Linked DNA regions of Homo sapiens. The protein of the gene in region 6 purifies or fractionates together with the protein of the main gene of each other region. This does not show direct contact. Each region holds a gene or a part of one and is shown on either strand. Other genes may lie near its edges.

Region 1 (3,500 bases), on a different chromosome or scaffold from region 6:
GTAACCTCCACATCCTAGGTTCAAGCGATTTTCTGCCTCAGTCTCCCAAGTAGCTGGGATTACAGGTGCATGCCACCACTGCCCAGCTAATTTTTGCATTTTCAGTAGGGATGGGGTTTCACCATGTTGGCCAGGCTGGTCTTGAATTCCTGACCTCAGGTGATCCTCCCGCCAGCCTTGGCCTCCCAAAGTGTTGGGATTACAGGCGTGAGCCACTGCTCCAGGCCCTTTTTCTTTTAAAAACAAATTTTTAGGCCAGGTGTGATAGCTCACACCTGTAATCCCAGCACTTTGGGAGGCCAAGGTGGGTGGATCATTTGAGGTCAGGAGTTCGAGACAGCCCAGCCAACATGGTGAAACCCTGTCTCTACTAAAAAATACAAAAAAAATGAGTCGGGCATGGTAGCAGGCACCTGTAACCCCAGCTACTCGGGAGGCTGAGGCATGAGAATCGCTTGAACCCGGGAGGCGGAGGTTGCAGTGAGCCAAGATTGTACCACTGCACTCCAGCCTGGGTGACAGAGTGAGAACTTGTCTCAAATAAATAAATAAATAAAAATAAAAACAAATTTCTAGCAGCTTGATTAAGGTATAATTGGCGTATCATAACATTGTAAGTGATTTTAATGAATTTGCAGAGATTTACTACAAAAATTTACCACATCTCCTAAAAGATCTCTTCTGGACATTTGCTGTCACTCCCCATTTCCACCCCCAGTCCTGGGCAACCACTAATCTAATTTTCTGTCTCTAAATTTAACTCTTCTAGACATTTCATATAAATGCAATTATACAGAATGAGTTCTTTTGGGTCTGGCCTCTTAGCATAATTTTTAGAGGGTCATCCATGTTGTAACATGAATCAGTACTTTGTTCCTTTTTTTTGGGGGGTGGGGGGCAGGGTCTCCACTGTGTCCCGAAGCTGGAGTGCAATGGCACAGTCATGGCACACTGCAGCCTCAACCTCCCGGGATCAAGCAGTCTTCCCAGCTCAGCCTCCTAAGTAGCTGGGAGGCACTCACCACCATACACAGCTAATTTTAAAAATTATTTGTAGAGACAGGGTATGTTGCTGAGCCTGGTCTCAAATTCTGGGCTCAAGTCCTCTTCCTGCCTTGGCCTCTCAAAGTGCTGGAATTAACAGGCATGAGCCACCACGCCCAGCCCTTCATTTCTTTTTACGGCTGAATATTCCGTTGTGTGGACATAGTGCATTTTGTTTATCCATTCACCAGTTTTTCTTAGCATTTTGCTCTTATCCTAGCTCTGCTGCTGGCAGGCCGTGTGACTTTAGGCAAGTCACTTTCTGTGAACCTTAGTGGCCCCATCCTCCGAATGAAGCATAGTCTAATATTTACTGAGCAATTGCTAATTTCTATGCATGGTGCCACGTTCTGTACATACACACTACATCATTTAGTCAGATTCTTCTTTTACCTCCGTTTTATAGTGAGGAAACTGAGGCTCAAAGAGGTTACAGCCCCAAGGTTACTAGGATACATCATGTATTCATTTGTGCACTCAGTTTGTGCCTGGTACTATTCAAGCCTGTGGATACAACAGTGAAAGGCCCAAAGCTCTGTCCTCAAGGAGCTTGTATTGCAGTAGGGTAGACAGGCAATAACCACCTAATGTCAGGTGGCAAGCATGAGTGAGGGGAAGAAGAGCTATTTTAGACAGTGTGGTCAGGGAGGGCTTCTTGGAAGAGGTGACATGGGGCAGAGATCTGAAGAAACAACCTGAGGTCTGGAGCCAGAGGTTCTTTCCGGGCAGAAGCCAGCTCGGGTAGTTCAGGGCACAGGAAGAGCAAGAACTGCTTCTGATGTTCATTTCCACCCTGACATCCTGGGATTCTCTCCTGAGTATTTTTTTTTTTTTTTTTTTTTTTTGAGGTGGAGTCTGTTGCCTAGGCTGGAGTGCAGTGGTGCGATCTCGGCTCACTGCAGCCTCTGCCTCCCAGGTTCAAGCAATTCTCCTGCCTTAGCCTCCCATGTAAAGTAGCTGGGACTAGTGGCCCGCACCACCATGCCCAGCTAATTTTTGTGTTTTTAGTAGAGGCGGGGTTTTGCCATGTTGGCCAGGCCGGTCTTGAACTCCTGACCTCAGGTGCCTCAGGTGAGCCACCGCCCCTGGCCTCTTCTAAATTTTTTTTTTTTTTTTTTTTTGAGGCTGAGTTTCACTCTTGTCTCCCAGGCTGGAGTGCAATGGTGAGATCTCAGCTCACTGCAACCTCTGCCTCCCAGGTTCAAGCGATTCTCCTGCCTCAGTCTCCCAAGTAGCTGGGATTACAGGCACCCACCACCATGCCCAACTAATTATTGTATTTTTAGTAGAGACGGGGTTTCACCTTGTTGGCCAAGCTGGTCTCAGACTCCTGACCTCAGGTGATCCACCTGTCTCTGTCTCCCAAAGTGCTGGGATTATAGGCGTGAGCCACCTGAATATTTAAAAAAAAAAAAGTATATGCATAAAGAAGAAGATAAATGATGTACTCTTGTCATAAATAATGAACCTGTGTGTAGCTGCTCCCAGGATTAAGAACTAGTACATTACAGTGATTTTTGGAACTACAGTGGGTCCCTCCATCCTCATCTTCCCTTCCCCTGAGAAAGAACTATACCCTGAATTTTTTGTTTGTTATCATTCTATTGTTTTCCTTTTTTTTTTTTTTGAGACGGAGTTTTGCTCTTGTTGTCCAGGCTGGAGTGCAATGGCGCCATCTCGGCTCACTTCAACCTCCGCCTCCCGGGTTCAAACGATTCTCCTGTCTCAGCCTCCCGAGTAGCTGGGATTACAGGCATGTGCCACATGCCCGGCTAATTTTGTATTTTTAGTAGAGATGGGGTTTATCCGTGTTGGTCAAGCTGGTCTCAAACTCATGACCTCAGGTGATCTGCCCTCCTCGGCCTCCCAAAGTGCTGGGATTACAGGCTTGAGCCACCGCACCTGGCCTGTTTTCCTTGTAGTATATACAAAAAGACTTGTACATAAATCAATATGGTCTTCTTTGTTAAACAGATCCTTCTGCACTGTGCTTTTTTCACACTATATTTGGGAGAGAATATTGATACCGGATTTGTGAAGTGTAGCTCGCTCATTCTTACTGCTGTATAGTATCCCATTATATTAATATATTCCAGTTAACCTCGTCTATTGATAAACATATAAGTGAGTTCCAGGTCTTGCAATTGCAAACAATGCGGGGCAGCCCTGTTTGTGTTTCCTTTTTTTTGTTGTTGTTGTTGTTTTTTTCCTGAGATGGAGTCTCACTCTGTCACCGAGTCTAGAGTACAATGGCACGATCTTGATTCACTGCAACCTCAGCCTCCTGGGTTCAAGTGGTTCTCCTGCCTCAGCTTCCCAAGTAGCTGGGATTACGGGTGCCTGCCACCATGCCCAGCTAATTTTTGTATTTGTAGTAGATACAGGGTTTCACCATGTTGGCCAGGTTGGTCTCGAACTCCTGACCTCAGTTGATCCACCCACCTCAGCCTCCCAGA
Region 2 (3,294 bases), on a different chromosome or scaffold from region 6:
CAGTTTCTGAATCTGAAATGGGGATGACAGCAGTACTGAAATCACAGGGTTGTTTCTGGGATGAAATGTGGTAGTTACCTGTAAAGGACTTAGTACAGGGCACATGACAGTGATCATAACGATAACATTAGCTGCTGCTTACTGAGTGCCTCATATGCGCCAAGCAAGTGTGAGCACGTGAAGTTCTCACAGCAGAACTGTGCAGTCTGCAGCTCAGCATTTCTTTGTTGTTTTTTTGTTTTTTGTTTTTTGAGACAGAGTCTCGCTCCGTCGCCCAGGCTGCAGTGCAGTGGTGCGATCTCGGCTCGCTGCAAACTCCACCTCCCAGGTTCACGCCATTCTCCTGCCTCAGCCTCCCGAGTGGCTGGGACCACAGGCGCCTGCTACCACGCCCGGCTAATTTTTTGTATTTTTTTTTTAGTAGAGACGGGCTTTCACTGTGTTGGCCAAGATAATCTCGATCTCCTGACCTCATGATCCGCCTGCCTCGGCCTTCCAAAGTGCTGGGATTACAGGCGTGAGCCACCGTGCCCCGGCCAGCTCAACATTTCTTAATAAATATTGGCTGTTATTTTTGTGCTAAGCCATGTGCTGGAGGTTGTTTTGGAGCAGTTCGGACTCCTCATGGGCACTGTTGGAGGCAGAGAGGCCTGCCAGATCAGAGGGTGGGCTGTGGGAGCGGGGCCCTGCCTGCCTTCACTGTTGCCCTGCCTGCGTGTAGGTGGACCGGTATCGGTTGAAGAATGGGCGCCGCATCATCCTGCTGGCCGAGGGTCGGCTGGTCAACCTGGGTTGTGCCATGGGCCACCCCAGCTTCGTGATGAGTAACTCCTTCACCAACCAGGTGATGGCGCAGATCGAGCTGTGGACCCATCCAGACAAGTACCCCGTTGGGGTTCATTTCCTGCCCAAGAAGGTGGGTTTATTCTTCTACCTCAAGCCAAGGGTCACGTGTCTAATCCTGGGATCCCCACACAGGGCTTGCCAGAGTTTATAAAGTGCTTGCCTGTCTGCCCTCTTAGAGGCCCTCATGGGGTCCTCTACAGTGCAGAAGTCATTCTCCCCATTGACAGAAGAAGAAACTGAGACCCACAGTAGGGAGTGGCTCCCTGGAGCACAGCAGAGCGGCAGGACCAGGTGGTGAGGAGAGCCTGGGCCTTGGAGCGGGACACACCCCAGTTTGAATCTCAGCCCCACCACTTACAGGCTGTGTAATCCAGGCAAATTCTTTCTCTGTCTTCATTTTCTCATCTGTGAAATGAAGGTAATAGCAACCCCCTTCAGGATTGTGAGGATTTCCTGAGATCATGAACCCACACACCCACAGGGGCTAGGCAGGTAAATGAGTGATGCCAGCTGAACAAGGACTGGAAGAGCTGAAGGGGTAAAGGGCTGGTTGCCACCTAGGAACCCAGGTCCGTCTGACCAGGGCTTCTAACCTTTCAGGAGAGCCAGAGATACCAAGATCTCTATACAAAATGATTTTCAAATACAGGCAACTCATTAAAATTTTATTTTGATTTTGATTTTTTTGAGATAGAGTCTCACTCTGTTGCCCAGGCTAGAGTGCAGTGACGTGATCTCGGCTTACTGCAACCTCCACCTGCCGGGTTCAAGCAATCCTCCCACCTCAGCCTCTTGAGTAGCTAGGATTACAGGCAGATGCCACCACACTTGGCTAATTTTTTTGTATTTTTAGTAGAGACGGGGTTTTGCCATATTGGCCAGACTGGTCTCGAACTCCTGATTTCAAGTGATCCACCCGCCTCGGCCACTGCACCTGGCCTCATTATAATTTAAAAAATAACTGGGTGGGTTAACTTGGACATGTGTATAAGCTGAGTGCAGTCTGCAGGCTGCACGTTGTGGCCTTGTAATAAGATGATACATCCCTGGCCAGGCGCGGTGGCTCACACCTGTAATCCCAGCACTTTGGGAGGCCGAGGTGGGCAGATCATTTGAGGTCAGAAGTTGGAGACCAGCCTGGCCAACATGGTGAAACCCCATCTCTACTAAAAATACAAAAAAATGAGCTGGGCATGGTGGCGCATGCCTGTAGTCCCAGGTACTTGGGAAGCTGAGGCAGGAGAATTGCTTGAACCCAGGAGGTGGAGGTTGCAGTGAGACGAGATTGTGCCACTGCACTCCAGCCTGGTGACAGAGTGAGACCCTGTCTCAAAAAAAAAAGATACATCCCTAAGCATGGCATCTCACTATGGTTGTATGGTCTGCATACTCATGAAGATGAAGTCCTCTGACATGAAATCCAGTGCTCACCCTAACACCCCATGCAGTCCACCCTTCCCTGGGGTCAGGACAGATGTTTTAGTCCTGGCTTTTCTTGGCAGTTTTACAGGTGAACTTTGCTTTGTCCCTTACCCTGTCCAATCCTCAGTCTCCTTATGAGCTAAATGGTAAGAGTAGCTCTTGCTCTTCCAGCCTTTTGCTGCTGGAGAAGCTGTGATGGGGTCTACATACCATCCCTTCATCTTTTGAAAGGCTGGTTCTACCAATTGAGGAAGACGCAGGAAGAGGCCTGGGGCATCTGCCTCCAGGGCCAGCCAACAACTAATCTCCCTGGAGCAATGTCTTGCTGGACCAAACATTTTACTCATAAGGACCTCAAGGCATACCTTGTTCTGTGCAGCTGGTTGTGGGGTTGAAAGATTCTCACTTGATCCCCATCTAATCCCAGTTGGGAGAAATATGGCTATGAGTTTGGTGAGAAATTGGTCAGGCCTTTGAAATGAGGGCAGGGTTGGAAGTGAAAGAGGCAAAGCTCCCGCCTCAGCACCTGACCCTGTCCTTACCACTTTTCTTCATCATTGCTAACATGTGGCTTGGGGACAGGACACTCTTGGCATCATGCCTCACATGCTGTATGCAGGCAAGGGACTAGGTACCTTGGTCAACAATGACAGAGAAGGCAGCCACCATTTATTAAGTCACCTACTGCACGAATGACTCTGAGTAGCACTGATCTTTGTAACAGCCTTGAGAGATGAGTGATCCATCCATCCTGCGAATGGGGAAAGTCAGGTGTAGAGACCGACTTGCTCTCACAGATGTTAAGTATCAGGCCAGGAATAGAACCTAGCTCTGTCTGTCCAAGGTGTTGACCTTAGGACGTGACACACACCTTCTGGTTCAGGGTGCTGGGAGAAGGAAAAGTTCTGGGCTAGTCCGGGCCAAGCAGAAGGTTGATTTCAATGTGTACTGTGGGGGTTGGAGGCCATCGTTCTACCTCTGGAACTGACGTGGACTCAGTTCTAGGCTGGGCCCTGGTCCTACTGT
Region 3 (3,500 bases), on a different chromosome or scaffold from region 6:
CATTAAATGACCTGGTCATGGTCACACAGTAAATGAGAGTGTCAAAATATCACCTAACGTTCTAATCCTAACCTGCTAGAAAGTAAACTCTAGAAGGGCAGGCATTGCCTCTCTTGGGTTCACTGCCAGCACCTAGCACAGCACCATGCACACCACTGGGGTTAATGCTAGTATCAGTACACATGCTCAGAATAAATATTATGAGAGTTAACTGCACTTCACAAAGAAGCCACGTAAGTAATAAATGGACAGTAGCTCCATCTCATATCACGAACAAGGCTAACTTGTAATGAAGAACTGCAGCAGCCCCCATTTGTAAACTAGAAGTGTTTTCCTTTTAGAATAACGAAATATTTGAAGAAAAACAGCCACCCATTTCCAACTGTTACATGGTAGAATGAATCAATCTACCATTATTTTTTTGTTAGTAGACTATAACTACAAGATAGTATTCTAGGATATCTGGTCAATAATACAACCAAGTTAATGATTAGTCCACCCTTCTATATAAATGTTGATTTATGATTACTATATTCATCGTCTAGGCTGAGATAATTTTGAAAATAAAGGGGTGCTATTAATATTTATTCACAGGAATAATGGCAACAGTCTTAGGCAAACCAGAACCTACGAGTCAACTTAGTTCAAAGTAAAAATATTCTCCTTTTCTTCTTTCTTATGGCACCTGCAAGAGATCCCCTGCATAGCTTGGCCTACATTTCTTGTTTCTTGCTTAAATTTCCTGACAAAGTGATGTTAAAAATAGAGACAAATTACTAAATAAATACATGCATATGCGTCATCTAAGGATACACAGCAATTTTCAGATATAGCCCATATTAGGATTTCAAAAGCAGTTGATTATAAAATTGACTTGCAACAATAAAAGCTCAACTATAGGATACGTCAATAACACAGACTTGTCTTGTCAATGTTTAAGATGACTACTTCCAATTTAACCTCCTTCCCATTATTGAACTGTAGCAGTCACCATCCCATAGTCCCATTTTTCAATCACTGACTTTTATATGCCTTATCACAAATCCTGAGGGACTCTACAGAAAAAGCCGAAGCTTCTTCCCACCAGCAATCAAAACCATACAAACCTCTGTCAGCTGCTTCAGTTGGTTTTTGTTTGTACTTAATTCTTCTGCTAGGATATTCTTTTTCACTTGTAGTTCACAGATTTCCTTTCTTAATGGATTCACTAGCTCATAGAAGCGAACCTTGAAAAAAATTAAATTAATAAGCAGTCTTAAATCCAAATTACAATTAAAATTTGTAATTTGTAGTGCTCTCACTTATCAGTAATAAAGATAAATATTTACAAAACTACAACAAGACAGTCATTAATGGACCCTAGCCACTAATACTTTCTATCAAGCCTTAATGTTCAATTAACTTCCCTCAAGGGCCAGATGATTTATAACCTCTTACCTTTGACAGTATTTCCTCCCTTCTACTGACACTCCATTACTACTCATCTACTACTGCTCACTCCACACTAGGTGCTTGTAAACTTCTGGAACATATCACAAATGTTCAGGAGTCTTGCTCTTGCTGTTTCTTCTGCTAGAGAAGTTCTTCCCCCATATAAATGCATGGCTCATGCCTTGTCTCCCTATAGGTCTCTGACCAAATATTACCTTGTTAGTAAAGCCCTCCCTGATTTCTTTACCTAATTTTAAGTAGCACTCCCTATTTTTCACCCCTGCTCTTTTCTCTGTAGCACCTTTGACAAACAGATATTCTACATATTTAATTTTTAAGTTATTGCCTGTGTTGCTCCACTTTCACAACCTGAGGGCAGGGATTTTTGTCTGGTTTATACACCGCTGTATTTCCAATGCCTAAATATATGATAAGCACTCAATAAATACTTGATGAAGAGGTAAAGTGTATTCTTTATTTTCATCCCAGGCTCTTGGCAAAGCTTTATTTACTGCTGTCCCTACAGTGGAAGTCTAATCAGAATGAATCAAGAGGTATCTTTCACATCATTACTTCCATTTAGTTCAGGTCTCTCTTTCCACTCATACTTGTCTCAGAGAAATTTTCCTACCCTAGCTCAGTAAAGTGTTCCATCTGACAAGGTCCCATAAAACTAAGAAATCATCACAGCAAATTAGGAGAGAGTAATTAGGGGCTATCATATAGGCATGCAATCTGAAACTCCTTAACATATGACGGTATTACAAGAATACCATTATTTGGTAAGAGGCAAATCTTAATACTAGCCCTCAACAAAAAGAATCTGCATATAATTAATTAGTTAAGGATAATATTGTCTGTGAAAACAAAAGATGTAAGAAGGAATATTAAGAAAACAAACAGCAAAAATATGTGTAACTGCCACCAGTGTGATACTTTATATCTACTGTAAATGAAGCCTCAAAAACAGAATTTGAGATATTTAATTTGTTTTGGACAGTATACTTTGGACAGAAAAGCTGTATTTGAGCCTTTTAAAAAAAAAAAAAAAACAGCTGAACAAAAAAGTAACTTCATTTTATCAGACATCACTAATCTGCAAATCTTTTCCCAATGAGAACCAAGAATAGCAACCACCACTCCAGCAAAAACAATAGACAACATTTTTATGTGTTTACTATCTTCTAAGCACTATGCTCACAAGCATTTTACATACATAGTTATAGTCTTTACAATTATCCCCAATAGAAACGCACCGTTACTATTAACCCTTTTTAGGGATTAAAAAATTCAAGCCTCTCAGGGTAAAATGACATCTACATATTAAAAAGCAGCAGTTCTCAACATATGGTTTTGGGACTCCTGGACTCTGCCCCACTCGCCACTCTGAGATCCTTTCAGGGAATTCACAAGATCAAAACGACTTTCCTAGTAATTATTAAGATTTTTTTTCCCCGTTTCATTCTCATTCTCTCATGACTGTTCAGTGGAGTTTGCCAGTGGCTACATGACATATGACATTATCACTCTTAAGGCCAATGGAATTGTGTGCTTATTCTTGTGTTTAAAAAAGTTGTTAGTTTAAAATTCTAGTATGGTAAATATTAATAGATACAGCCCATATAAACAAACACTCATTGGGGTCCTCAATAACTTTTAGAATGTAAATGAATGCTGACACCAAAATATTTGAGACCACTGCCATAGATTAATCCTAGGTGTTCTAGATTTGTGTAACCAGCACTGCAATCAAGATCTTGCGCCAATCTCTCACCACAAAGTTCTTTCTCATCCTATCCCTTTATAACCACGCTGACTCCTCTCTCCCACTATCCCCAACCAACCCCTGGCAACAACTACTCTGTTGTTTATAATTTTTCATTTTGAGAATGTAAGAAACCACCAGTTTACGATAATTCATTTCTATGGACTATGCAGTCATTAACTTCAGAAACCTATTTATTGCTTGACTTTGGAGATCAATGGTCATGATCCTTTAAAATTTGGATCTCAACACCATTCACCATCCATAGCCATAAAATAATGTATCAATTGGGTACTTCAAAAGT
Region 4 (3,500 bases), on a different chromosome or scaffold from region 6:
AAGATGGTGGTAGGGGCTGGAGTGATGCCGCAGCAGCCAAGGAACACCAAAGATTGCCAGCAAAGCACTCGAAGTGAGGAGAGGGGCCTGGGACAGATTCTCCCTCACAGCCTTCAGAAGGAACCAGCCCTGCCAGCACCTTGATCTTGAACTTCTAGCCTCCAGAACTGTGAGACAATACACTCCTGTTGATGAAGCCACTCAGTTGGTAGTACTTTACTACAGCAGCTCCAGCAAACTGTACAGGGACCTCATAGCTTCTCTTTAAGGATAGCAAAATCTCTCTCTCTCTCTCTCTTCTCTCTCTCTCCCTGTATTATTTTTTGTTATAAAAATAGTTTTTTGTTACAGAAAAGTCAGAATATATAGACAAGCAAAAAGAATGTAAAAAGTATCCACAATCCTGCTCACCATTCACATCTTGGCGCACGTCTTTCCATATCACTTGTTTTTTTTCTCTCTTTTTTTTTGAGATGGAGTCTTACTCTGTCACCCAGGCTGGAGTGCAGTGGTGTGATCTTGACTCACTGCAACCTCCACTTCCTGGGTTCAAGCAATTCTTGCACCTCAGCCTCCTGAGTAGTTGGGATTACAGGCATGAGCCACCACACCCAGCTAATGTTTGTACTTTTAGTAGAGACAGGGTTGCACCATGTTGGCCAGGCTGGTCTTGAACTCCTAGCCTCAAGTGATCCACCTGCCCCAGCCTCCCAAAGTATTGGGATTACAGGCATGCGCCTCTGCCCCCAGCCTCCATATCACTTAGTATCCTCTCCCCATGTCTACAAACTGTAGCCTGGATCATGTCTTAACACTGTAGGTAACCTGCTTTTTTTTTTTTCAATGATAAATAATAATTGTACACATTCATGGGGTGGGTAACAATGTTGCAATACACATAATGCATAGTGATCAGATCAAGGTAATTAGTACATCAATCATCTCAAACATTTATCATTTCTTTTTGTTGGGTTCATACAATATTCTCCTTCTAGCTGCTTGAAACTATAGAACATATTACTGTTAACTATAGTCTTTCTACAGTGGTATAGAGCAATAGAACTTATTCCTCATATCTAGCTATAATTTTGTATCCTTTAATAAATTTCTCCCTATCCCTCTCTTCCCCCTACCCTTCCCAACCTCTAATATCCTCTGTTCTACTTTTTACTTCTGTAAGATCAACCTTTTTAGCTTCCACACATGAGCAAGAACAAGTGGTGTTTAACTTTCTGTGCCCTGCTCATTTCACTTCACATTCGCCCAGTTTCATCCACATGGCCATAAATGACAGGATTTCATTCTTTTTTTACGGCCGAGTAGTATTCCATTGTATACATATACCATGGTTTTTTGTCCGTTCATCTGTTGTGTGCTCTTTTCATTGAATGTGTGCAGTATCAACAGAAACATTTCGGTAGCATCATTTCTCATGACTGCACAGTATCCTATCGATATCCTGTGTGATACCAACACTGCATCAAATTTCCTATTGGTTCAATCTTTATGCATCATCTCAATACTTTCCTTATGATAAATTCCTAAAATTGCATTTCTGAGCCAAAGATGATGTCCATTTTTAAAGATTTTTTTTTTTTTTTTTTTGAGACAGAGTTTTGCTCTTGTTGCCCAGGCTGGAGTGCAATGGCGTGAACTCGGCCCACCACAACCTCTGCCTCCCGGGTTCAAGCGATTCTCCTGCCTCAGCCTCCCGAGTAGCTGGGATTACAGGCATGCACCACCACGCCAGATTACTTTTGTGTTTTTAGTAGAGATGGGGTTTCTCCATGTTGGTCAGGCTGGTCTCGAACTCCCGACCTCAGGTGACCCGCCTGCCTCAGCCTCCCAAAGTGCTAGGATTACATGCGTGAGCCACTGTGCCCAGCCTTAAAGATGTTAATATGAGCTCTCTATCCACCCTTGGAGAGGTTGTGCCGGCAGCAGCAGTGGGAGGAGGGTGTTACTCTAGGTGCTTCTGGAATTACCTCTCAGAACCATTTTGTGGGTCAGAGAAGCAAACCAGTTTTGTCATCTTTTGGCCCCACCTTATTTTAATGTGTTCATCCTGGTTGTTGACCTTCTTCACTAGACTTGGCTTTGTCTGAAGTTTTGCTGTTTTCAAAAATTAAACTCACCCTCAAAAGACTGAGGTTTGGACAGTTCTCCCCACCCTCCCTGCAAGAAAGGAATTCACAGAGGAATTTGACTCTCAGGGAGCTTTGATTCAGTGACTCTGAGGTCCTTTTAAGTCCTGAAGTGCTAAGGCGGCTATGCTGAGGGCAGTGCATGTGCCCACAGCCTGTGTCCATCAACCGGGGCCCACTGTCCCACCTCACACATGCGCGTGGGGCGCTAAAGGCCAGGCTCACTCACTTGTAGGCTCCAAGGACCAATCCATGCCAGACCTTTTTCCAGATATTCCCATTTTCACGGAGTGGGCTCATGAACTTCAAGTTCTTTGTATATTCAACAGTTTTAACAAAAGACCAGTTACTTTTCTTCTGAGCCATTAAAATGTGAATTATTGGCATAAATTCTGAAATTTATGAATTTCTTCCAAAGTGGACAATTACATTTGAAATTTTATTATTTTTTGTAACATAATGATAAATTATTTAACATTTTCTGTGATGACAACACCTGAAATATACTCTCAGAGCAATATCAAAATGTGCAGTACTCAACTGTTAGCTATATTCACCACACTGTGCAGTAGATGTCCAAAAAAATCAAACTTATCCTTTTTATCTGACTGAGACTTTGTACCCTTTGACTATCATTTTCCCATTCCACCTACCCCCAGCCTCTGTACCCACCACTGTACTCTCTGCTTCTGGGAGTTCAATTGTTTTATATCTCACATATAAATGAGAACATGTGGGATTTGTCTATGTTTGGCATATTTCACTTAGCATAATGTTCTCCAATTCTATCCATGTTGTTGCAAATGACATAATTTCTTCCTTTTTAAAAGCTGAACATATTCCATTGTGTCTATATACCACATTTTCTTTTTCCATTCATCCATTAATGGACATTTAGGTTGATCCCACATCTTTGCTATTGTGAATACTGTTGCAATAAACATGAGGGTGCAGATATCTCTTGACACACAAATTTCAAACTTTTTAGGTAAATACCCAGATGTGACAGTGCTGGATCCCAAAAGCACCATCACAGAGGGCTACTGAGAGCCAGGAAATGGAACTGTGCAATGTGATACTGCTGAATGGGGTTCCTACGAGCTCTAGGGCTTCTCGGTCCTGTTTTATTCCTAGCAAGGGCAAAACAACAACTAAAAACAATTTTTAAAAATCTTTTAAAAAATCGTTTTTAGGCTACTTATAGCCTGTTTTCACTAGGTACACTGGGAATACTTGGTTCTTAGTGTGGCCTGAACACCAGAACCAAATGACCTGCTTCACCCAGTCCAGGACCCATGGCACCTGCTCTCTTCCATCTGAAGAGAACTGCATATATGAGACGAAGGCCAGGTCTCA
Region 5 (3,500 bases), on a different chromosome or scaffold from region 6:
CGCCTTTGCAAAATTATAACTGAGGAAACTATGAAAGTGAAAGATGTCAGACCTAACCGACTCCATCTTGCTTCTAACTTGTAAGCTGTCCTTGTGGATTCCTGGGTGTAAGCCAGACTAACTTTGGGAAGGAATTCAGTTCATGGTTTGACTCTGAAACAAAATTGATAACAGCCCTTTCCCAAAAAGACCCCCTTCTTGCCCGGGGACCAGTCTGCCTTTGCAGGACTAACAAATTAGCTACAAGATTAGAAATTACACTTTAGGGGTCATGCAGCCTCTGACTCCAAGAGTCTGAACCTCTTCAAATTGCTCCTGGGGAGAACATCACTGTTGTAAAACCCAAGATCAGCGCCTGAGATGTTCTGCAGACCCTGCATTCAGTGGATCAGCTGACACCACCCAGACCAGTAATCTGGCTCAACCAGTTCTGCCATCCCACCCAGGAGGAGGAAAACAGCAAGAAAACCTCACTTTGACCATCTATGACTCCATCTCCAACCTGACCAATCAGCACTCCCCACTTCCCAAGCCCCTACCTGCCAAATTATCTTTAAAAACTCGATTTCCTGGCCAGGCGCGGTGGCTCACGCCTGTAATCCCAGCACTTTGGGAGGCCGAGGCGGGCGGATCACTTGAGGTCGGGAGTTCAAGAACAGCCTGACCAACATGAAGAAACCCCGTCTCTACTAAAAGTACCAAAATTAGCCGGGCGTGTTGGCGCATGCCTGTAATCCCAGCTACTTGGGAGGCTGAGGCAGGAGAATCACTTGAACCTGGGAGGCAGAGGTTGCGGCGAGCCGAGATCGCGCCATTGCACTCCAGCCTGGGCAACAAGAATGAAACTCCGTCTCAAAAAAAAACAAAAACAAAAACAAAAAAAAACTCGATTTCCAAATGCTCAGGGAGACTGATTTGAGTAACAGTAAAACTCCAGTCTCCCACACAGCCGGCTCTGGGTGAGTTACTCTTTCTTCATTGCAATTCCCCTGTCTCGATAAATCAACCCTGTCTAAGCAGCAGGCAAGGTGAACCCATTGGGTGGTTACATAAACACAATTTTTATCCTAGCTTTCTTGGTAAAATTCCTTTTGTTAATCTCAGTGTTTCAACTGAATTTGGAGGGAGAGTTTGGCTGGAGAAATAGAGTGGGGAGGAAGGAGTAATTTCACAAGAGAAAGAGCCTAACTGCAGAAAACAGAACACCTGGAAGTAATCCCGCTTCATTTGAATCGTAACAGGGGTAGTTAATGAGATCAACCCTGAGGGTAAGTGAGTCTAAAATAGTGCTGCTGCGGGCCACGCTTTGAACCCAGCACTTCCTTGTTGCAGCTCTAGAGAAAACAGTCTGTTAAGAAGTAAGCACTCAGGCCGGGTGCAGTGGCTCAGGCCTATAATCCCAACACTTTGGGAGACCAAAGCGAGAGAGGCCAGGAGCTCAAGACCGGCCTGCGCAACAAGGTGAGACCCCCGCCCCCCACAACTCTACAAAAAAATAAAATAATTAGCCAGGTGTGGTAGTGCACACCTGTGGTCCCAGCTACTGGGGAGACTGAGATGGGAAGATTACTTGAGCCCGGGGCAGGGTCAAAGCTGCAGTGAGCCATGACTGCCACTGCACTCCAGCCTAGGTGACAGAATGAGACCTTGTCTTAAAATGTTAAAAAAAAAAAAAAAAAGTAAGAAGTACTCAACGTTATACCTACCAAAGAAAAGCCATAGGTGATGGGAAGGAGGAAGTAAAAGGAAATCTATATTGGGAAAGAGAGTAGCGGGTAGGGCATTACCAATCATAACAAGCTAATAACTCCCCTGCACATAGGGAAAGGAAACAGCAGCTCTGAGAACACGGAGATGGAAAATGGAAATCATGCTTTCTCTATGTTTATCTCTAAAAGTTTCATTTGAATACACAGGCTGGGACAGACGGAAGAGGAAGAAAGCAGGGGTGTCCGGGAGGTAAGTGTCTCAGAAGCATGTAGAAATGACACATGCTCCAACTTGAAATCAAACCTGTGGTAAGGCTTATGATTCTAGGGATGGGGAGTCCAAGGAAAAATCAAATATTCGCAAAATGTTGCTACATTTTAAGCTTTGGCATGTATTTATTTAATGTTGCCCTAAGAGAATTACCTACTTTGTAAATTATTTTGCCTCATAGAAACAGAGTGGAAGCGGACATTCTCCTTTCTGCCTTAAAAAAAAAAATGCTTTTGTCAGTCCTGAAGAAAAGGTCTTGAAGTTTGCGAAAACTCTTAAAATGAAAGGGGGCTGAGCATGGTGGCTCTTGTCTGTAATCCCAGCACTTTGGGAGGCCGAGGTGGGTGGAACACTTGAGGTCAGGAGTTTGAGACCAGCTTGGCCAACATGATGTAACCCTGTTTTTACTAAAAATACAAAAATTAGCCAGGCGTGATGGTGCGCGCCTGTAATTCCAACTATTTGGGAGGCCGAGGCAGGAGAATTGCTTAAACCCAGGAGGCAGAGGTTGTAGTGAGCTGAGGTCACGCCATTGCACTCCAGCCTGGGCCACAGAGCGAGACTCTGTCTCTAAATAAACAAATAAATAAAATAAAATGACAAGGAGCATAACCATCTCTCAAGAACCTGATGAATGTGTAGATACTGAAGCTGAGAACTGGTTACCTCTGCTTGTTCCTAGGCTGATTTAGGCTAGCTCCCTGAAGCTCGCCCAGCACTTCCAGTCCCACGCACACAGCAGTCTCCAACCCAGAGGGCCTCGCCTTGCCACGCCCAGGCTGAGAGGACTTCCACCCTAGAGAATCTCTCATCCTTTTCCCTGTTCTCCCTGCGCCACTCCTTCTCCTCCTCCCAACTCACCTTGTCATTCACTGGAACGAAGTTGCTATCCATGGTGACAATGCGGAAATACACTGGAAAGGAACAGGCATCATTAGCAAAGGGGATGTTTCCTGGCTCAGAATTTTTTTTTTTTTTTTTTTTTTGATACAGGGTCTCACTCTGTCACCCAGGTTGGAGTGCAGTGGCACAACCGTGGCTCACTTCAGCCTCAAACTCCTGGGCTCAAGTGATTCTCCCACCCCAGCCTCCGGAGTAGCTGGGACCACAGGCAGGTGCCACCACACTTGGCTAATTTTTGTAGAGACAGGGTTTCACCATGTTGGCCAGGCTGGTCTATGAACTCCTGACCTCAGGTGATCCACCTGCCTTGGCCTCCCAAAGTGCTGGGATTATAGGCGTGAGCCACCGCGCTCCGCCTCCTGCTCAGAATCTTTCCTCTATCCCTCCTCCTTCCTCACACATGCTCTGAGTCAGCAAAACCCCAACAGGTTTTACTTTTTTACAAAACCTGCTCTGAGAGTAAGGTAAAGTCCAAACACAGGCCTGGAGCTCAGGAGGCAGAGCAAGAGGCAGAATAGAAGCCTCCATTGACCACCCTCCTCATCCCCCACAGTAACACCAAACTGAACAACTGCCCACGCAAAACAGCACTGTCATAAGAACCAAAAATCAGAAGA
Region 6 (3,500 bases):
ATTGCCTGAGAATTTGCTACCTTTGTTAAACTTAATGATTGACAGTTATGTCTCAATTATATTAAATTTATGGTCTCACATCATGAAGTACTGCATGAACATTTATTATCCACTGATTTTTGTAAAAAGTAAAAATGCAATAAAACTTAAGACAATTTAATAGACAAAAATGGAAATGCTGAAAACAAAATTATTTACTAACAAGCACTGTAACTATGCAACAGCTCAAAAACGTTCATTTGTTAGATGACATATAAATTTCCCTGCTACTTGCCTTCTCTTGATATACTGAATATGTTACTAAGCAGCTTTGATGGGTTGCAATTCACAACTGTTGGCTATTGCCATTGGAACTGGTTCTGTGCTTTCCCTAGTTCAGAATACCATCATAACCTCTTGGCAAAGAAAGGACCAAGAAAAGAGCAGAACAGGCTGGGTTATAGTTGTCAAAGACTGTTACTCCTTTCTATATTTTAGAGTGGCAGTTGTAGGAGGCTCACAGATCTTTCAGCATTTTAAATGCCACACACAAAAAGCAAGATATTATATAATTCTGTCACGACTCACCTTGTGATTGTAGGAGTCTGCAACATAAAGTAAATTCCTTTTTTTGTCCCATGTTACTCCAAGGGGGTGTTGAAGCTTTGCATTGATTCCTACTCCATCAACATCACCAAAAGCAAATAAATTCTTTAATTTTTTTTAAAAGAAAAGAAACAGCAGTTATTATAATTTTTACAGTGTTTTGTTAGAATATGAAGGAAAATTCAAACAGTTACAAATGGTATTTAAGTTAAAAGGGAAAATGCTGATTTTCATATAAATAGGGTTGGATACTTCATTCAGATTAGAAAAAAAATGACAGTATTTTGAACCTGTATTAATTGGTGGTGCTTAGTAGTTTTACTCACAATACTACATCTGGTCAGGAATAGGTCAAGTCCACTAGTCTGGTGCTCTTTCCACCCCACTGCCCAATATCTAATTTACATTTTTTTCTTTTCTCCAATAATCAATGCTTCATCCTTTCTTTCTCCCTGAAACCTTAACATTTATACATAATAAAGTAGAGTCAGTTCACTTTTCTTAGATGGTGTGTTCCTCACGTTGCTTTACATTCACATTTCCTTTGGTCTGACTTTCATTTTGATTCGCAGATAGGCCAAGGATGGTCTCTCTTAAATCTTATTAACTTTCCATAATTCACAAAATTGACAGCTTGCTCAGTGTCCGAGCGCACTGTGCAAGAGTGACTGTCATTACCATGGGGTCTCTTTCTCCTCCTACGAGGTGCTTCACTGCTCCATCTTTCAGTGAAACGGTTCTCACTGTACTGCTCTCACTATCTGCTACAAACAAGCAGCTCCAGGGATCTTCAGAGGCCAAGGAAAGGCCTGAAGGTTGGGCAAAACCTGCCTTGTGAGGATAGGCATTGTTTCGATTCTCTTCATTTCCACTTCCAGCAAACCTAAGGCAGGTTCCTTTTGTTAACTCACTGAAAAAGACAAGTTCATAGGTGGAGTCAACATGTGGTATATTGTGTGCAATTTAGTTCTTAAATAAATGAATGTGAATAATCAAATCAAAAGTGATAAGCCTCCTAAAAAAACAAACTAGTGATCTTGGTCTAGTTAAATTGTTCAAGTCAGCTTTCATTATCATTTTTCCAACCATTAACTTATTTACCCACTGTGTAGGGAACTTCTTACTTTACTTTGATACACACAAAACTGAAATCACTTTCAAATGTTAAACGACAAATCCCTGATAGAATTATAAGATAAAAATAATGATCAGATTATTGATGAGATAGGTTGTTTTTACTACCTTAAATTCTTAACTTCTTAGTTTCATGCAATATGAGGTTCGGAAAGGGAACTAAAAAGATCATCTAGCTCTTGATAGTTTAAAGCTTCAATTTTCATTAAAAATGTTTTGTGTTCTTATATATAAACAGAGACCAGCAAAAGGAATTAAAGAATAGTTTTTGAAAGTTGGCCAGGTCAGACATTACTATTATATGAAAAATAATATAATTGTACATAATTATCTTAAAATTACATGGGATAATTATGTACAATTATATCGATTGTACAAATCAATTTCTTATATACATTAGGGAAATTTCTATTTAAGGAACTATTGCAATGATTCCTTTTGTAATGCAGAGAAAGCTTTAGATCCTGGTTTCTAAGTTTATTCCAGAGAGACTGTAAAAAAGACATGGTAGTGTGTTGTGTTGAGGGAAGGGAAGCAGCTGACTCGGGACACAAAATGAGAGTCTGTGTAAATCATTTCTGAATATGGTACAACATGCAAAAGTCTGAACTCACCATCACTTACTGGCTAATATGTTCCCATAATAAGTTAGGTAGGGAGCAGGGGACAGAGGCAAAGGGATTTAGCACGCATAAAATATGGCCACTTATTCAAGAAACATATAAACATAGCAAGTACAATATATGTAATAACTAATATGCTGAACAAATTAATTGAAAGGAGTCTACAAGGAGTCTTAATACTTTAAAAAGGAGTTTCCTTAATTAAATAAAGAAAAGAGTAGGGAGAAACAATAACTTTTAAAATGCTAAGGGTCATTACTACCTGAAGATCGGTAATAAAGATAATACATCCTTAAAATTAAAACACAGGTCAGTGTGGTCCTAGTGCCAATTTCCTATTAAGAAGGAGAGTGACAACTCTACTTATGAGGAAATTCAGGCAGCTCTGAATCATCTATGCCTAAAACAGCCATCACCCAGAACAGCATATTCTGGCAACTTCTGTTACTTCTCTGCTGTTTATAATTATGCCTCATGTAAAATCTTATTGGTAATCTCACTGTTCAGGCTACTATCATCTCTTGCCTGGATAACAGCAATAGGCTCCTCAGTGGTATCTCTTATCTCTGTCTCTAGTCTTGTTCCACTCTGAGTGCTGCCAATGTTCTTTCAAAAACACAAATCTAATCATGTCACTTCCCAGCTTAAACCTTTCTAAAAAGGCTTGTAGAATATTCAGATCCCTAAAAGTACTCACAAGGCACAGTGTGATCTGGCTTCTACTGACATCACTAGTGCCAATTCTTGCCTGGAAAACTTTCCACTCTCCCTAACTCCTATACTCTTATCAGGTCACTGTTTAGTTGCCTCTTCCAAGAAGCCCTCCTTGACAACTCAAATCTTACTGATGTTGCGTCTTCCTCTTACTTATATAAGGAACAATTTCAATTTTTTTTTTTTTAAACGGAGTCTCACTCTGTCGTCCTGGCTGGAGTGCAGTGGCACAATCTCAGCTCACTGCAACCTTCCGCCTCCTGGGTTCAAGCGATTCTCCTGCCACAGCCTCCTGAGTAGCTGGGATTACAGGCAAGCGCCACCACGCCCAGCTAACTTTTTCTATTTTTAGTAGAGACGGGGTTTCACCATATTGTCATTCTGGTCTCGAACTACTGACCTTGTGATCTGCCTGCCTCGGCCCCCCAAAGTGCTGGGATTACA
Region 7 (3,500 bases), on a different chromosome or scaffold from region 6:
TTCATCATGATAAAGAGTAAAATTATCAGATTGGCAAAATAAGAACTTTATAACATCCTGCATTACAGAGAGTAAGAAGAAAAAAAATACATTGCTAGTAGGACTGTTAATTCATGGACCTTTTGGCTGGGCGCAGTGACTCATGCCTGTAGTCCCAGCACTTTGGAGGCGGGTGGATCACCTGAGATCAGGAGTTTGAGACCAGCCTGGTCAACATGGTGAAACCTCATCTTTACTAAAAATACAAAAATTAGCCAGGCGTGGTGGCGAGCACCTGTAATCCCAGCTACTCAGGAGGCTGAGATAGGAGAATCACTTGAACTTGGGAGGTGGAGGTTGCAGTGAGCCAAGATCGTGCCACTGCACTCCAGCCTGGGCAATAAGACTGAAACTCTGTGTCAATAAATAAATAAATAAATAAATAAATAAATAAAACTGATGGGAGTTCAATGAAGGACAACTTGGAGATCCATGTCTGTATCTGCGTACATGCATGATTAAAATTCACAGACCCTTTGACGTAGCAGTTCTATAGGAATTTATCTTATAGATATGCTTGTTCAAATGTACATATTTAGTTATGCATACATTTATTCATTGCAGAAGTGTTTCTAATAGAAAAAGGTTAGAATAACTTAAATATCTATCATTGCTGGGGGTGCATCCTGAAATAAATTATGGCTTATCCATATAATTGAACATTATACAGTCTTAAAGTGTCTTTATCTATAGATTAATCCCAGAGACCAATTGTTAATGTAAAAAAGCAAGGTGTCAAATGTTATGTATGGAATATTATTTTTTGAAAAAGAAAAAATGAATATATATTTTATATACATAAGATATGTACATATATAGTACACATTTACATATATGTGTATATACATAAAACACCTTAAAGGAAGAATACAAAAATTATACTAGTTACTTCCAAGGATGGGACTGGGTGGCTGGGGGACAAGGATAGAGAGCATTCTTTTCAGTGTCTATAATTTTAAATTTTTACATGAACATATTATTTATTTTTAAATAAATAAAAGTTTAACAACAAAATAACAGGCTTGACTCAAAACGTTAAGAGGCAAATCTAATGCCCTTGTTTTGCAGTTCATTCATAAGCTAAGAGGGGTTAGGTAATTTGTCAAATGTAGCAGAACTAGTATGTAAGCAACACAGGACAAGAGCTGGGATTGATTGGGCTCTCTCATAGAGGTTGCTTGAGAGTAAAGGAAAATATACTTAAGCTGGGTGTGGTGGCTCATGCCTATAGTCCCAGGACTTTGAGAGGCTGAGGTGGGTGGATCACTTGAGGTCAGGAGTTCAAGACCAGCCTGACCAACATGGTGAAACCCCATCTCTACTAAAAGTACAAAAAAAATTAGCCAAGTGTGGTGGCACATGCCTGTAATTCCAGCTACTCAGGAGGCTGAGGCAGGAGAATCGCTTGAACCCGGGAGGCGGAGGTTGCAGTGAGTCGAGATCGTGCCATTGCACTCCAGCCTGGGCAACAAGAGCGAAACTCCTTCTAAAAAAAAAAGAAAAGGAAGGGAAGGGAAGGGATTGGATTTAAATACTCGTCACACAAATAAGTCAAAAGTTCAAAACTCCATTTTTGTGTGGGTGCAGTGAAAACAGTAATTAACTTGCTGGAGGAAGCATGACTTGGTATAACACTGAAGAACAAGCTGGCGGCTCATATAGGAACAAAGAACATACTCTCAGGCAGGTGAATAGGTACAGGGAGGACTTGCCTTATCAGATGTCAAACTTAAATATAAAGCTATTTACATTGAAAGCAATGTGATGGAATAGGGAGGTCAATGGAACAAATTATTAAACCCATGAATAGGCATATTTAGAAATTTCGTATATGATAAAGGCAACATCTCTGATTTCTGGGCATAGAGAGAAGGGAGGTCGGGGAGTGGTGTGCAGGGAGAAGAATGGATAATCCAGTAAGTAAAGTTGTGACAACAAGCTACTCATTGATTAAAAAAATAAAGTAGTCCTAGCTTCTCTGGAGGGTGAGGCAGGAATATTGCTTGAGCTCAGGAGAGCAAAAACTGCCTGGAGAGCACAGTGAGACCCCATCTCTGAAAAAAGAAAGTCAGATACATACACCATTCACTAAAAAACAAATTGTGTACCTGTAATTCCAGCACCTTGGGAGGCCAAGCAGGGAGGATCACTTGACTCCAGGAGTTTGAGACCAGTCTCGGCAATATAGTGAAACCCAGTCTCTACAAAAAATACAAAAATTGGCTGGCTGCAGTCACTCACGCCAGTAATCTTAGCTCTTTGGGAGGCCGAGGCAGGAGGATCACCTGAGGTCAGGAGTTCAAGACCAGCCTTGCCAACATGGTGAAACCCCATCCCTACTAAAAATACAAAAATCAGCTGGGCGCAGTGGCGGGTGCCTATAATCCCAGCTATTCAAGAGGCTGAGGCAGTAGAATCACTTGAACCCGGGAGGCAGATGTTGCAGTGAGCCGAGATCGCACCACTGCACTCCAGCCTGGGCGACAGAGTGAGACTCCGTCTCAAAAAAAAAAACAAAAAACAAAAAACAAAAATTAGCAGGGCATGGTGACATGTATGTGTAGTCCCAGTTACTCAGGGGGCTGAGGTGGGAGGATCAATTGAACCTGGGAGGTCAAGGCTGCAGTGAGCCATGATAGCACCACTGCACTCCAGCCTGAGCACTAGAGGAAGACCCTGTCAAAAAATAAAAAATTACCCACGCGTGGTGACACAGGCCTGTACTTCCAGCTACTCTGGAGGCTGAAGTGGGAGGATTGCTTGAGCCCAGGAGTTCGAGGCTGCAGTGAGCTATAATCACACCACTGCTCTTCAGCCAGATAGACAGAATAGGGCTCTGTCTCAAAAAAAAGAAAAATATCCCAGCACTCCGGGAGGCCGAGGCGGCGGATCACGAGGTCAGGAGATCAAGACCATCCTGGCTAACATGGTGAAACCCGTCTCTACTAAAAATACAAAAAAATTAGCCGGGCGTGGTGGCAGGCGCCTGTAGTCCCAGCTACTCAGGAGGCTGAGGCAGGAGAATGGCATTAACCCGGGAGGCGGAGCTTGCAGTGAGCCGAGATCGTGCCACTGTGCTCCAGCCTGGGCAACAGAGTGAGACTCCGTCTCAAAAGAAAAAAAAAAAGAAAAAAAATTATTTCTTTAGCAATTCTGCTAGGCAGGCATCACAATAGGACTGCTTCTGTGGTTCAAAAATTCTCTTATCCTTCTGATTTAGTAGGTTTGGATGAGGCCCTGAAATTTTAAGTTTACCAGGCAATTGCAAAGATGAACCAAGCTTTGTGAACTATTACCTTAGATATCAAAACTAATTTGCTGGGTCTTAGGAAAATAGCATTGGAGAATAATGGGAAAGCCATAGCCTTTGAACAGATTCCTTACTCTACAATATATTAGCCACATGTCCTTGGAACGATTTCTTATCTCTTAAGTCAAGGTTTCTCATTGGTAATACAGAA

Evidence for each region.
Region 1: the proteins of NHLRC2 (region 6) and TKT purify together in Homo sapiens (affinity purification with mass spectrometry, with the first as the bait; one large-scale study listed by BioGRID). This does not show direct contact.
Region 2: the proteins of NHLRC2 (region 6) and AHCY purify together in Homo sapiens (affinity purification with mass spectrometry, with the first as the bait; one large-scale study listed by BioGRID). This does not show direct contact.
Region 3: the proteins of NHLRC2 (region 6) and PIBF1 purify together in Homo sapiens (affinity purification with mass spectrometry, with the first as the bait; one large-scale study listed by BioGRID). This does not show direct contact.
Region 4: the proteins of NHLRC2 (region 6) and STAU2 purify together in Homo sapiens (affinity purification with mass spectrometry, with the first as the bait; one large-scale study listed by BioGRID). This does not show direct contact.
Region 5: the proteins of NHLRC2 (region 6) and A2ML1 purify together in Homo sapiens (affinity purification with mass spectrometry, with the first as the bait; one large-scale study listed by BioGRID). This does not show direct contact.
Region 7: the proteins of NHLRC2 (region 6) and HSPE1-MOB4 purify together in Homo sapiens (affinity purification with mass spectrometry, with the first as the bait; one large-scale study listed by BioGRID). This does not show direct contact.

The regions. Positions count from the first base shown.
Region 1 is NC_000003.12:53,246,023-53,249,522, reverse strand, and holds part of TKT (transketolase), read left to right. Parts: intron 1-3,500. UniProt on the Homo sapiens protein: Catalyzes the transfer of a two-carbon ketol group from a ketose donor to an aldose acceptor, via a covalent intermediate with the cofactor thiamine pyrophosphate.
Region 2 is NC_000020.11:34,283,062-34,286,355, reverse strand, and holds part of AHCY (adenosylhomocysteinase), read left to right. Parts: intron 1-721; coding exon 722-916; intron 917-3,294. UniProt on the Homo sapiens protein: Catalyzes the hydrolysis of S-adenosyl-L-homocysteine to form adenosine and homocysteine. Binds copper ions.
Region 3 is NC_000013.11:72,795,633-72,799,132, reverse strand, and holds part of PIBF1 (progesterone-induced-blocking factor 1), read right to left. Parts: intron 1,227-3,500; coding exon 1,107-1,226; intron 1-1,106.
Region 4 is NC_000008.11:73,425,341-73,428,840, forward strand, and holds part of STAU2 (double-stranded RNA-binding protein Staufen homolog 2), read right to left. Parts: intron 1-3,500. UniProt on the Homo sapiens protein: RNA-binding protein required for the microtubule-dependent transport of neuronal RNA from the cell body to the dendrite.
Region 5 is NC_000012.12:8,829,121-8,832,620, reverse strand, and holds part of A2ML1 (alpha-2-macroglobulin-like protein 1 isoform 1 precursor), read right to left. Parts: intron 2,895-3,500; coding exon 2,842-2,894; intron 1,960-2,841; exon of another isoform or gene 1,315-1,959; intron 1-1,314. UniProt on the Homo sapiens protein: Is able to inhibit all four classes of proteinases by a unique 'trapping' mechanism. This protein has a peptide stretch, called the 'bait region' which contains specific cleavage sites for different proteinases.
Region 6 is NC_000010.11:113,899,661-113,903,160, reverse strand, and holds part of NHLRC2 (NHL repeat-containing protein 2), read right to left. Parts: intron 1,496-3,500; coding exon 1,264-1,495; intron 691-1,263; coding exon 568-690; intron 1-567. UniProt on the Homo sapiens protein: Required for normal embryonic development.
Region 7 is NC_000002.12:197,506,879-197,510,378, reverse strand, and holds part of HSPE1-MOB4 (HSPE1-MOB4 protein), read right to left. Parts: intron 1-3,500.